3 linked regions of the Homo sapiens genome follow. The protein of the gene in region 2 interacts with the protein of the main gene of each other region in a pairwise test. Each region holds a gene or a part of one and is shown on either strand. Other genes may lie near its edges.

Region 1 (3,500 bases), on a different chromosome or scaffold from region 2:
TCAGCATTGAACAGTTAAGGTGTCTTAAAATGCAGTGTGCTGGCCGGGCTTGGTGGCTTACGCCTGTAATTGCGGCACTTTGGGAGGCTGAGGCTGGCAGATCTCCTGAGGTCGGGAGTTCGAGACCAGCCTGACCAACATGGAGAAACCCCGTCTCTACTAAAAATAAAAAATTAGCCGGGCATGGGGGTGCATGCCTGTAATCCCAGCTACTCGGGAGGCTGAGGCAGGAGAATCGCTTGAACCTGGGAGGCAGAGGTTGTGAGCTAAGATCGTGCCATCCTGCCTGGGCAATGAGCAAAACTCCATCTCAAAAAAAAAAAAAAAAAAAAATGCAGTTTGCTTTTAACAGAACCCACAACAATTACATAATCCGAAAAGATGTTTCACTATTAAGGTTATGTAAAATTCTCTTTCAGCGCATTATCTGATTATAGTATTATTTTATGAATAGATTTTATTACAGATGGATAATTTAAGAGTAAAATCAAATATTTTAATTTTGGAATTTGAAAAATAATGATTCAAGACAATATTATATTTATAAAATACATAAAATTTGACCCAGTGGAATAATTATTTAGACCTAGGATAAAATATCTTCTTTTAAAATTTTCTTAAAGTGGAGCCACAGGCAGCTAATTTGAAAGTACAGTGAAACTTCAGCCTTCTGTGAATGAGATACTGTGAACTTAGTATCCTGAGTTACAGAGAATTAAACAATACTTTTTTGTTTTTGTTTCAATTCCTGTTGCAAATTTGCCAAATTATTTTCTAGGGTTAATACATACTAAACATAATAGAATCTTTCTTTGATAAATTAGAACATTATAGTGTCCTAGGATCATCTTTCTGATTATCGGTGATACTGTTAGGGATATGAAGATTATAACATTAACAGTACCTGAGACATTTTTTGTGTATATATGTCAGATGGCTTGCATTTTTATCAGTTGTTGTATTCTAGAAAAAAATGAAGTGAAAAATTACTTCTGATTGAGATGTTAGTATACCCTACCCTTGTTTAGTTTTTAAGAATAATTTTTCAATTATGAATACTCATTAATTTTTGAAGGATTTAATGAGGTATGAACAAAACTGGTGGTTACCAAAACTATCCCTATTCTCATGAAAAAAAAAAAAGTTCTTTGAGTTGAAGACAGAAGTTTCTTGTTGTGTAAGGATCCTCTTGTTGCAGATGTCAACAATCTTGTCTGAAACATAGTTGGGCAAAAAGGGGAATTTACTGTCTCAGATAACCTAAACTCAGGATGCAAGGATGCAGTTGAAATCAAACACAACTGGAACCTGAGCTGAGAATGCCACCAAAACTCTCTTATCTCTCCTCCTCTCTCCCTTTCAGCTTCATTTTCTCCAAATGCAGACCAGCTTCTTTCTTCCATGTAGCCGGGACATAGATGCCAGCAAATTATAAGTATGAGCTAGGCACTATCCTAAACAATTTTGCATGTATATTCATTCATTTAATCCTCACAGCTTTTTATACCTATTTTACAAATGAGGAAACAGAGGTATAGAGAGGTTAAGTAGTAATCCAGGTTGCCTGTTTTTATAGCACAATACAGTATGATAGAGATGATAGAGTTGGATTTGCTAGGCACTAGCTAGCTGTGGTTACAAATGGTCTCATTTGTGTTTTGTTTTTGAATTTTTTGAACAGACTTAATTTTTTAAGAGCAGTTTTATATTGGTAGCAAAATTGAGCAGAAAGTACGAAGAGTTCCCATATGCTCCCTGCCTGTACACATGCATAACCTCCCTCAGTATGGACATTCTACACTAGCGTGGTACACTTGTTATGGTAGATGAACCTACATTGATGCATCATTATCACCCAAAGGCCATAGTTTACATTAGGGCTCACTCTTCGTGTTGTGTATTCTATGGTTCTTAACACTTGTTTTTTTTTTTTTTTTTTGAGACGGAGTCTAGCTTTGTCGCCAGGCTGGAGTGCAGTGATACAATCTCAGCTCACTACAACCTCTGCCTCCCAGGTTCAAGCAGTTCTTCTGCCTCAGCCTCCTGAGTAGCTGGGATTACAAGCACGTGCCACCATGCCCAGCTAACTTTTGTATTTTTTTTTTTTTTTTTAGTAGAGACAGGGTTTCACTATGTTACCCAGGATGGTCTCAATCTCCTGACCTCGTGATCCACCCGCCTCGGCCTCCCAAAGTGCTGGGATTACAGGCGTGAGCCACCGCGCCCGGCCTTAACGCTTGTTTTTGTTTCTTTGGGAGAGGGATGGAGTTTTGCTCTTGTTGCCCAGGCTGGAGTGCAATGGCGTGATTCTTGGCTCACTGCAACTTCGCCTCCTGGGTTCAAGCAATTCTCCTGCCTCAGCCTCCCTCCCGAGTACCTCTACAAGCACGTGCCACCACGCCCTGCTCATTTTTTGTATTTTTAGTAGAGACGGGATTTCACCATGTTGGCCAGGCTGGTCTTGAACTCCTGACCTCAGGTGATCTGTCTGCCTCGACGTCTCAAAGTACTGGGCTTACAGGTGTCAGCCACTGCACCCGGCGAGGTTCTTAACACTTGTAAGAGTAATGTGTGTCCGCCATTATGTTGTCATGTAGAATAGTTCCATGGCCTTAAAAATCTTTGTTCTGCCTGTTCATATGTCCTTCCCACCAATCCCTGATTTTTTTTACTGTCTCTTTAGTTTTGTTTTTTCCAGAGTATCTTATAGTTGGAATCATGCAGTATGTTGCCTTTTGGATTGGCTTCTTTGACTTAGTAATATTCATTTAAAGTTCCTCCATGTCTTTTCATGGCTTCATAGCTCGTTTCTTTTTAGTGCTGAATAATATTTTATTTTCTGGGTGTATCAAATCCATTCACCCACTGAAGGACGTCTTATTGCTTCCAAGTTTTGTTCATTTACTTTTCACAGTAGTTCTGCAAAGTGTATATGTTGAGCTGTTTACAGATTAGGAAACAGATTCAAGAGAGGTGAAGTAGTTTACTCAGGTTCACATCATTAGAAAGTTGGCATAGTTTATATTAGAACCTAAACTCTGACTCCCAAGCCCATAATCCTTATATGTACTTTGCTGTATACATGAATAGGTCAAAATACAATTTATTTTTTACTTATTTTTTACAATATAGTAGAAAAACTTTATTAGAGTTAACTATCAGTTCTTCCTTGTTACTAAAGGAACTAGGGGAGGATTCATTTTTAGCAGTTGCTCTAAGGCCACTTCTTTTAGTAACCTTTTTACTTGAAATAATAAAACTACATTTCCATAAAAGTCCTTCTCTTTGAAATTTTCTTTTATTCAGTCTATTCTTTTGCTTAGTATACATTAATAAGGTAAAATATACTTCTGGCTGAGTGCGGTGGCTTGTGCCTGTAAATCCCAGCACTTTGGGAGGCTGAGGTGGGAGGATCGCTTGAGCCTAGCAATTCCAGACCAGCCTGGGAAGCAGTGGGATCCCTGTCTCTACAAAAAAATAAAAGAATTAGCTGGGTGTGG
Region 2 (3,500 bases):
AAATAATGGCAGGAAGTCACAGCAGCCCAGAAACAGCCCCTTCCAAAGGGCAGGCTGTGACCCCACGGCAACTTTGCAGGCACCTCCCTTGATTTCCTGTGGGTTCCTCAGGTAGCCCATCAGGCAAGAGCTGCCCCAGGACGGGTTTAACAGCAGGAAGATCTGGGTAGCTCAGATGGGCTCTGGATCACGCTGCTGGGCTGGAATCTTAGCTCCCGCAACCATAGGGGTAGCCCCTGAGCCAGTCCCTTCACCTCTCTGAACTTCAGTCTTCTTTCTTATCTGTGAAACAGGGATGATGGGAGTCAGTGCCTCCTGGTTTTTTGGAAGGATTCAGTTAGATAAGGTGTGATTCCTCGTCCCCCAGGGTGGACCGCATTGCCAGAAATGACATGAGGCCACCTTGCTTCTCAGGCCGTGCCTCATCCTTGACTCCTCTCCTCCTCTCACAGTCACAGCCAGTCCAGTGGCAAGGGCTGCCGACTGTGCCTTCCCAACATGGCTGTCCTGGGCCACTTCCTGGTTATCCTCACCTCCACCCTCATTCGAGCTGGTTAAAAGCTTACATCAGAGTCCATCCCTCTGCTGTTCAGACCTTCTGGTGCTTCTCTTCTGGCTCAGAGTAAAAGCCAAAGTCCTGGCTGGGCGCGGTGGCTCATGCCTGTAATCCCAGCACTTTGGGAGGCCAAGGCAGGTGGATCACTTGAGGTCAGGAGTTCGAGACCAGCCTGGCCAACATGGTGAAACCCCCCATCTCTACTAAAAATACAAAAATTAGCTGGGCGTGGTGGCACACACCTGTAATCCCATCTACTCAGGAGGCTGAGGTAGGAGGATTGCTTGAACCCAGAAGGCAGAGGTTGCAGTGACTCACCTGAAATCTTGCCACTGCACTCCAGCCTGGGTGACAGAGCAAGGCTCTGTCTCAAAAAAAATAAATAAATAAAAGCCAAGTCCTTAGCTCTGCCTCCCAGGTCCTCCCATGCGGACCTGGCTGGCTCGCTGCCCTCACCTTCTGCCTTGTTCTCTGGCCACACCAGCCTCCCTGTTGTTCATCAGCACCGCCAAACGCACTCCTGCCTCAGGGCCTTTGTACCTGCTTTCCCTGCTGCCCAGACCATCTCCCTGATGACCTGAGGTCTCTCCTCATGCATGGCCTCATCAGAGAGGCCTCTCCTGACCATCCTGTCAAAATAGCCCTGTCTTGTCTCTGGCAAAACAAAGCCACTGAAGAATGAGAGAGGCTATTTTCTCCCCTGGCCACCTCCCTAGAGGAGCTGCTCCCCTGAGGGGCCCAGCGGGGACCCTTGTGCCCTGGATGCCGACTCCTGGTGAGTGCTGGCTCTCCCTGTCTGTGTCTGCTGCAGGTGAGAAGCCCTACAAATGCTCAGTGTGCGAGTCTGCGTTCAACCGCAAGGACAAACTGAAGAGACACATGTTGATCCACGAGCCCTTCAAGAAATACAAATGCCCTTTCTCGTGAGTAGAGACTGCCATGCAGGGGGGTGGGTAGCGGGACAGATTCTCCAGGGGTGCTGCTGGGGAGGGTGGGACAGATGTCAGGCCTGAGGGCAGGCCTCTCCTTTTTTTTTTTTTTGGAGACATAGTCTCACTCTGTCATCCAGGCTGGAGTGCAGTGGTAAGATCTTGTCTCACTGCAACCTCTGCCTTCTGGGTTCAAGCGATTCTCTTGCCTCGGCTTCCCAAGTAGCTGAGATTACAGATTTAGTAGAGATGGAGTTTCGCCATGTTGCCTAGGCTGGTCTCGAGCTCCTGACCGCAAGTGATCCATCCACCTCGGCCTCCCAAAGTGCTGAGATTACAGGCGTGAGCCACTGTGCCTGGCCAGGCCTCTCTCCTTTTATCCTGTCCTGGGCCCTGCCTGCCTCACTTCCCACCCTACCTCCTTGCCCAGCCCTTAGGGTGGACAAGGCTGTCCCTTGTGCCCAGGGCTAGTGGAGGGGCCAGCAAGAGGATCCTAAGCTTGGTGAGCTCCCCCTGACCAGTGGCTTTGGGTTTTAGGACGCACACAGGCTGCAGTAAGGAGTTCAACCGGCCGGACAAGCTGAAGGCCCACATCCTCTCCCACTCTGGTAAGTGGCTCTTGGGCCTGCTAAGAGGGTCTGGTTCAGCTCTAGTTCACTGGGATAGACCCGCCAGGAAGAGAAAGAGCAGACATATCCTGTGAGGCTTGTTTTCCCTGCCTGGCACATTCCAGCCAGCACTTTCACTTATGTGGGCTATGAGCCAGGCCTGTGTTAGGGACTTAAGGGTGAACAGAGATGAATCAGACACAGTCCCCCAGTCCAAGGAGGAAGCTGACCTGAGCAGAGATGACTCAGTTGGAGCAGTGCCCAGTGTAATAGAGGTGTGGACGAGGTGTGGAGGGAATCAGATTCCAGCCAGGTCCAAGACATGGCCAGGAAGCTTCTTTGATAGGGCAGGGCAGGGGTCTCCAAGCCACTCCTCAGTTTCTCAGCGCCTCCTCAGAGCAGCCTGGCTGGCTTTCCACATGCCAGCCGAGGTCTAAAACAAGGTTCTTCAACCCTGGCACCATTGACAATTTGGGCCAGATAATTTTTTTTTTTTTTTTTTGAGACGGAGCCTCCCTCTGTCACCCAGGTGGAGTGCAGTGGTGTGATCTTGGCTCATTGCAACCTCTGCCTCCCAGGTTCAAGCGATTCTCTTGCCTCAGCTTCCCAAGTAGTTGGGATTACAGGTGCCTGCCACCACACCCAGCTAATTTTTGTATTTTTAGTAGACATGGGGTTTTCACCATGTTGGCTAGGCTGGTGTCGAACTCCTGACCTCAAGTGATCTGCCCGCCTTGGCCTCCCAAGGTGCTGGGATTACAGGTGTGAGCCACCGGCGCCTGGCCTGTAATCCTGTAGATAATTTTGTCCTGGGGGCTGTCCTGTGCCCTGTAGGATTTTTAGCAGTATCCCTGGCTTCTATCTACTGGTGTCAGTGGCATCCCCCCACAGTTGTGACAACCAAAAATGTCTCTAGGCATTGCTGAGTCCTCTGGGGGGTAAAGTCTCCCTTGTTTGAGAAGGTTTACAGAAAGGAGTCAGTCACTAAAGAAAGTGTGAAAACTGGGAGAGTAGGTCAATGACTTGGACACACAGGGCTGGGTTGGAGTCTTAGTGCTGCCATGTTCCTGTGGGTGGCCTCAGGCGTCACGGCCCCTCCCTGAGCCTGAGATGACCTGGCAAAGCGAGCCAAGGTGCAGAGAGTGAGCAGCTGTTCCAGGCAGAGGAGAATGGCAAGTACAAAGGCGCAGAGGGAGGAGCCAGCGTGGCATCTCTGAGGAGAGCGAGTGTGGCTGGCGCAGAGAGTGGCTGGAAGAAGGCAGACGACGAGGGTGGAGAGAGCTGGGGCCAGATCACACAGGTGCTGGTGGGGAAAGAGCCTGGATTTTATTCCCAGCGCAGGGCACTGTTGCGGGGTGAAGGTCTGGATGCTTCTCACTGACTTTCCCTTGCCCTCCAGGCATGAAG
Region 3 (3,500 bases), on a different chromosome or scaffold from region 2:
AGCACACAACCTGTTAAGATCTCAGGCAGTAGACTTATATCTAAAGACTGTTGTCATTCACCAATGTATTAATGGATATGAAAAGCTACATGTAACGAAATAGTATGAATTTTAAAAGGCTGTTAATTCTAAATACTTTTATAAGCATGTATTACTTGTACAATTATAATTATATAAAATCTTAAAAAAATTTAATAGAGGAGAACTAAGGAGCAAGCAAGCATGTGTTTCAACCTCCATTTAAACACACAACTATTTTCCTACCTCAGCATCTTGGGATTTGGCAATGTCTACCAAAGTCTTTGCTGCAGGATGGACAACATCAAGAAGTTTCAGAATTGTGGCCCCATCATTAGAAATTGTTGCTTTGCCTTAAAAGAAACAAACAAAAATCTAAAGCCCCTTTCTTAAATGCTGTCTTCAAGTGGGACCTAGAACCCATCTACACTTTACTGGGATGGGGCAGAGGGGATCACGGCAGGGCTGAAGGGAAAGGATACCTATCTGATCTTTCTATACAGAATTAGCTCTGTACACAAAGGGTCTAAAATCACAAGCTTTTGCAGACCACAGACTCCCAATTTTCCTTGAAGAGCAATTAATACAGGTCAACTGGATACAGAAAAGATTTTTTAAATAAAAGTAACCACTTAGATATTCTTACCACAGTTGATACCCTCACACATCAATTAATATACCAAGATATAAACAGGAATTTTCTCATCTTGATAACAATGGAAGTGAACACAGGAAACTCCAGATGGTTCTATTTCATGTTTCTAGGCCACGTCTCCCTATGAGGCAACAGGCTCCTGAGCCTAGGTTCTCTCATATAGTCCCACACGGGCTCAGCAGTCAGGACAATATAAGAATTGGAACTGCTTCAGAGTGAGTCATCTTTCAACGATCTTAAAAGCAGTGGGATTTCTGATACCAACCTATGCTAGTCCCAAACACCCCCTCAGGAGCCTCCTTTCCTGCACACAGGCCTGAGGAACTCTGTAGACTTACCTCTGCCATCTACAATAAGCTTGTCCATGCCACGGGGACCCAGGGTAGTTCTTACAGCCTCAGCAATCACCTGGCAGGCACTGATGTTACTCACAAGCTGGGGGATGCCTTGGGAGCTATCAGTCCCCTCTTTCAATAGGATAACTGGTGTGGGCTAGAAAAGAAAGAAATTAACTGCTTTTAATAATCATCTATTATAATGAGACTGGCAGGGGAAAGGGGAAAATGCTCCCATCTCTCCCTTAACAGAATTATCTAGAGGTCTTCTTAAACCACATTCCCCCAACTGTCTACCACATCCATTCCCCAACCAGCCTCTACCTCCAGAGACACTATCAAATTTAGCCTACCCTGCAGGTATGCTAGACAGGAAAATGGTTTGAGAAGCACTGACCTAATCTAAAAGAAAAAATCATGAGTTCTCCAGTACCCAGCTGAATGACCATGGCCTTTTCAACTTCTGACCTTACTCCCTGTGCTGAGGAATTGGGTCACAACACAGGAGGAAGAGGCAGACCCTGCTAAGTGTTCATTCCGCAGCAAAACATCCACTTGTCTGTGTTACAGCTCAATCTTAGAGAAGCAGATGGGACACTGATGCAAAATGCAAGATGCCAAGAGCTTGAGGTGTTGTCCTAGAGATGCCTAGGCAGTCAGCTTTATGTAACAGTGATGTTCAGCTGCAGTGTAGGAAAACAGGCAGAGAAACAAACAGCACCTTTGCCCTGTTTTGAAAAATGATGGCAAATCTAATTCATACAGCAATGTTTCCATCTCTCATGCTGGCTGAATAAAGCTTCTGTGTGACTAATTTCCAATCAGATACCCCAAAGAAGTTTTCCTCTTTCTATATTGCATTGGTCTCCAGAACATTCCCTATCCCCGTAAGGGCTTCATTTGCAGACCTGCTTTAGAAACTGAGAAACAGGGATACTTGCTTGTTTTAAAGGGCCCGCTCAGATATCTTTGCTCTAGTGACCACCATTATTAGCAGAGAGAGCAATTTCTCAGCTTAGCAAACCAGACTACTTTCTCTCCACATTCAAATCTGAGCCTTCAGAGATAAGCCCACGAACTAGATCCAGTCTTCTCAAGTGTTTCTGGCTAATTTTGTGTGTGACACAGAATGTAGTAAGGATAAATACTATTTCAAAACTTTTATTGTGTTAAATTTGTTACTAGGCTATGATTAAAAATGTATTTCTTACTGTGGAATGCAATAAAAAGTTTGAAAGCCATCACCTAGTCCTTAGAGGTACGTGGATGTCTGAGCAAGGAAGGCACAGGAAAGCACAGAGCTTTCCCAACCTAACAATGAGGAGTGAGGAATTCCTGCCAAAGACAGAGTCTTGCCACTCATGAGGCTGATTCCTTATTAACTGGTCAATTCCTTAAAAAGTTCAACTCTTTTGGCCAGCGCAGCTGGAGGGTAGTAAGCAAGAGGAAGACTGGAATAAAGCTGAAGAGGCAGGCAGGAACCAGATCACATACACACTCGTAGACACACTATGGTGAGGAGTTCAGATTTCATTCCTAAAAAGGAAAGCCCTGGGAAGCTTTCAGCAGAGGAATGGCATACTGTGATTTACATAAAAAACAAAAACCACTGTAGAAAAAAGAGGATCACTTGAGCTCATGGAGTTCAAGACCAGCCTGGGGAACATGGCAAGACCCTGTCTCTACAAAAAGAAAACGAAAAATACCCAATAAACTCTACGGAATAAGAGAGTGGGAGTAATTTAATATATTATTCATTTTTTAATATATATTTCTAAGAGACAGGGTCTTGCTCCACCACCCATGCTGGAGTGCAGTGGTGAGATCATAGCTTACTATAAGCTCAAGCCTCCTGAGTAGCTGGACCGCAATGCATGAGGTACCACACCTGGCTAATTTTTTAAATTTGTATTTAAAAAATGTTGCCCAGGCTGGTCTCCAACTCCTGGCCTCTAACAACCCTCCTGCCTCAGCCTTCTGAAGTGCTAGGATTACAGGCATGAGGCACCATGCCAGGCCCTCATTAAATTTTTTTAAATGCTTGTCAAATAATCATACATTACTCCTTTTATTTTTTATTTTAAAAAGAATGCTTGTCATGTAAACCCCTACATTTGGGATCAGGCGTCAACTGAAGGGAAAATTCCTTCCTTTTGCTGGAGTGTCCCAGGTCTGGTGGCAAGAAATGGCTTCTCTATACTCCCAGCATTCTTTCTGGCTCTTCAGCTGGCCCAGTCCCTGGCACCTTCTGTAAGGGAAAGATGTGTGTCCTGAAAGGCCCTACCATCTCCCAGTCTTGCTAAATCATTCCTTATGGCAGCCCCAAGTCTTCTCTGGTCCACCCCTGCCACGGATGGAGTCTTACACTTTAAATCAAAAACTAACATGAGTCTCAATCACTTCCTATCACCTTCAACAGGTTCTTTCACCTCAACAGGTTAACTTACCCAATGCTTGTGTATACTTTTTCTCACCTCAACCTGCAAAGTGTA

The links. The genes of interacting proteins can lie anywhere in the genome.
Region 1: the proteins of ZNF341 (region 2) and ZDHHC17 interact in a two-hybrid assay, tested with the Homo sapiens proteins (one large-scale study listed by BioGRID and IntAct).
Region 3: the proteins of ZNF341 (region 2) and CCT7 interact in binary tests that used the Homo sapiens proteins (3 or more experiments, as listed by UniProt).

What each region holds. Positions count from the first base shown.
Region 1 is NC_000012.12:76,770,615-76,774,114, forward strand, and holds part of ZDHHC17 (palmitoyltransferase ZDHHC17), read left to right. Parts: intron 1-3,500. UniProt on the Homo sapiens protein: Palmitoyltransferase that catalyzes the addition of palmitate onto various protein substrates and is involved in a variety of cellular processes.
Region 2 is NC_000020.11:33,787,496-33,790,995, forward strand, and holds part of ZNF341 (zinc finger protein 341), read left to right. Parts: exon of another isoform or gene 1-282; intron 283-1,367; coding exon 1,368-1,479; intron 1,480-2,022; coding exon 2,023-2,093; intron 2,094-3,492; coding exon 3,493-3,500. UniProt on the Homo sapiens protein: Transcriptional activator of STAT3 involved in the regulation of immune homeostasis. Also able to activate STAT1 transcription.
Region 3 is NC_000002.12:73,237,308-73,240,807, reverse strand, and holds part of CCT7 (T-complex protein 1 subunit eta), read right to left. Parts: intron 1,166-3,500; coding exon 1,012-1,165; intron 372-1,011; coding exon 265-371; intron 1-264. UniProt on the Homo sapiens protein: Component of the chaperonin-containing T-complex (TRiC), a molecular chaperone complex that assists the folding of actin, tubulin and other proteins upon ATP hydrolysis.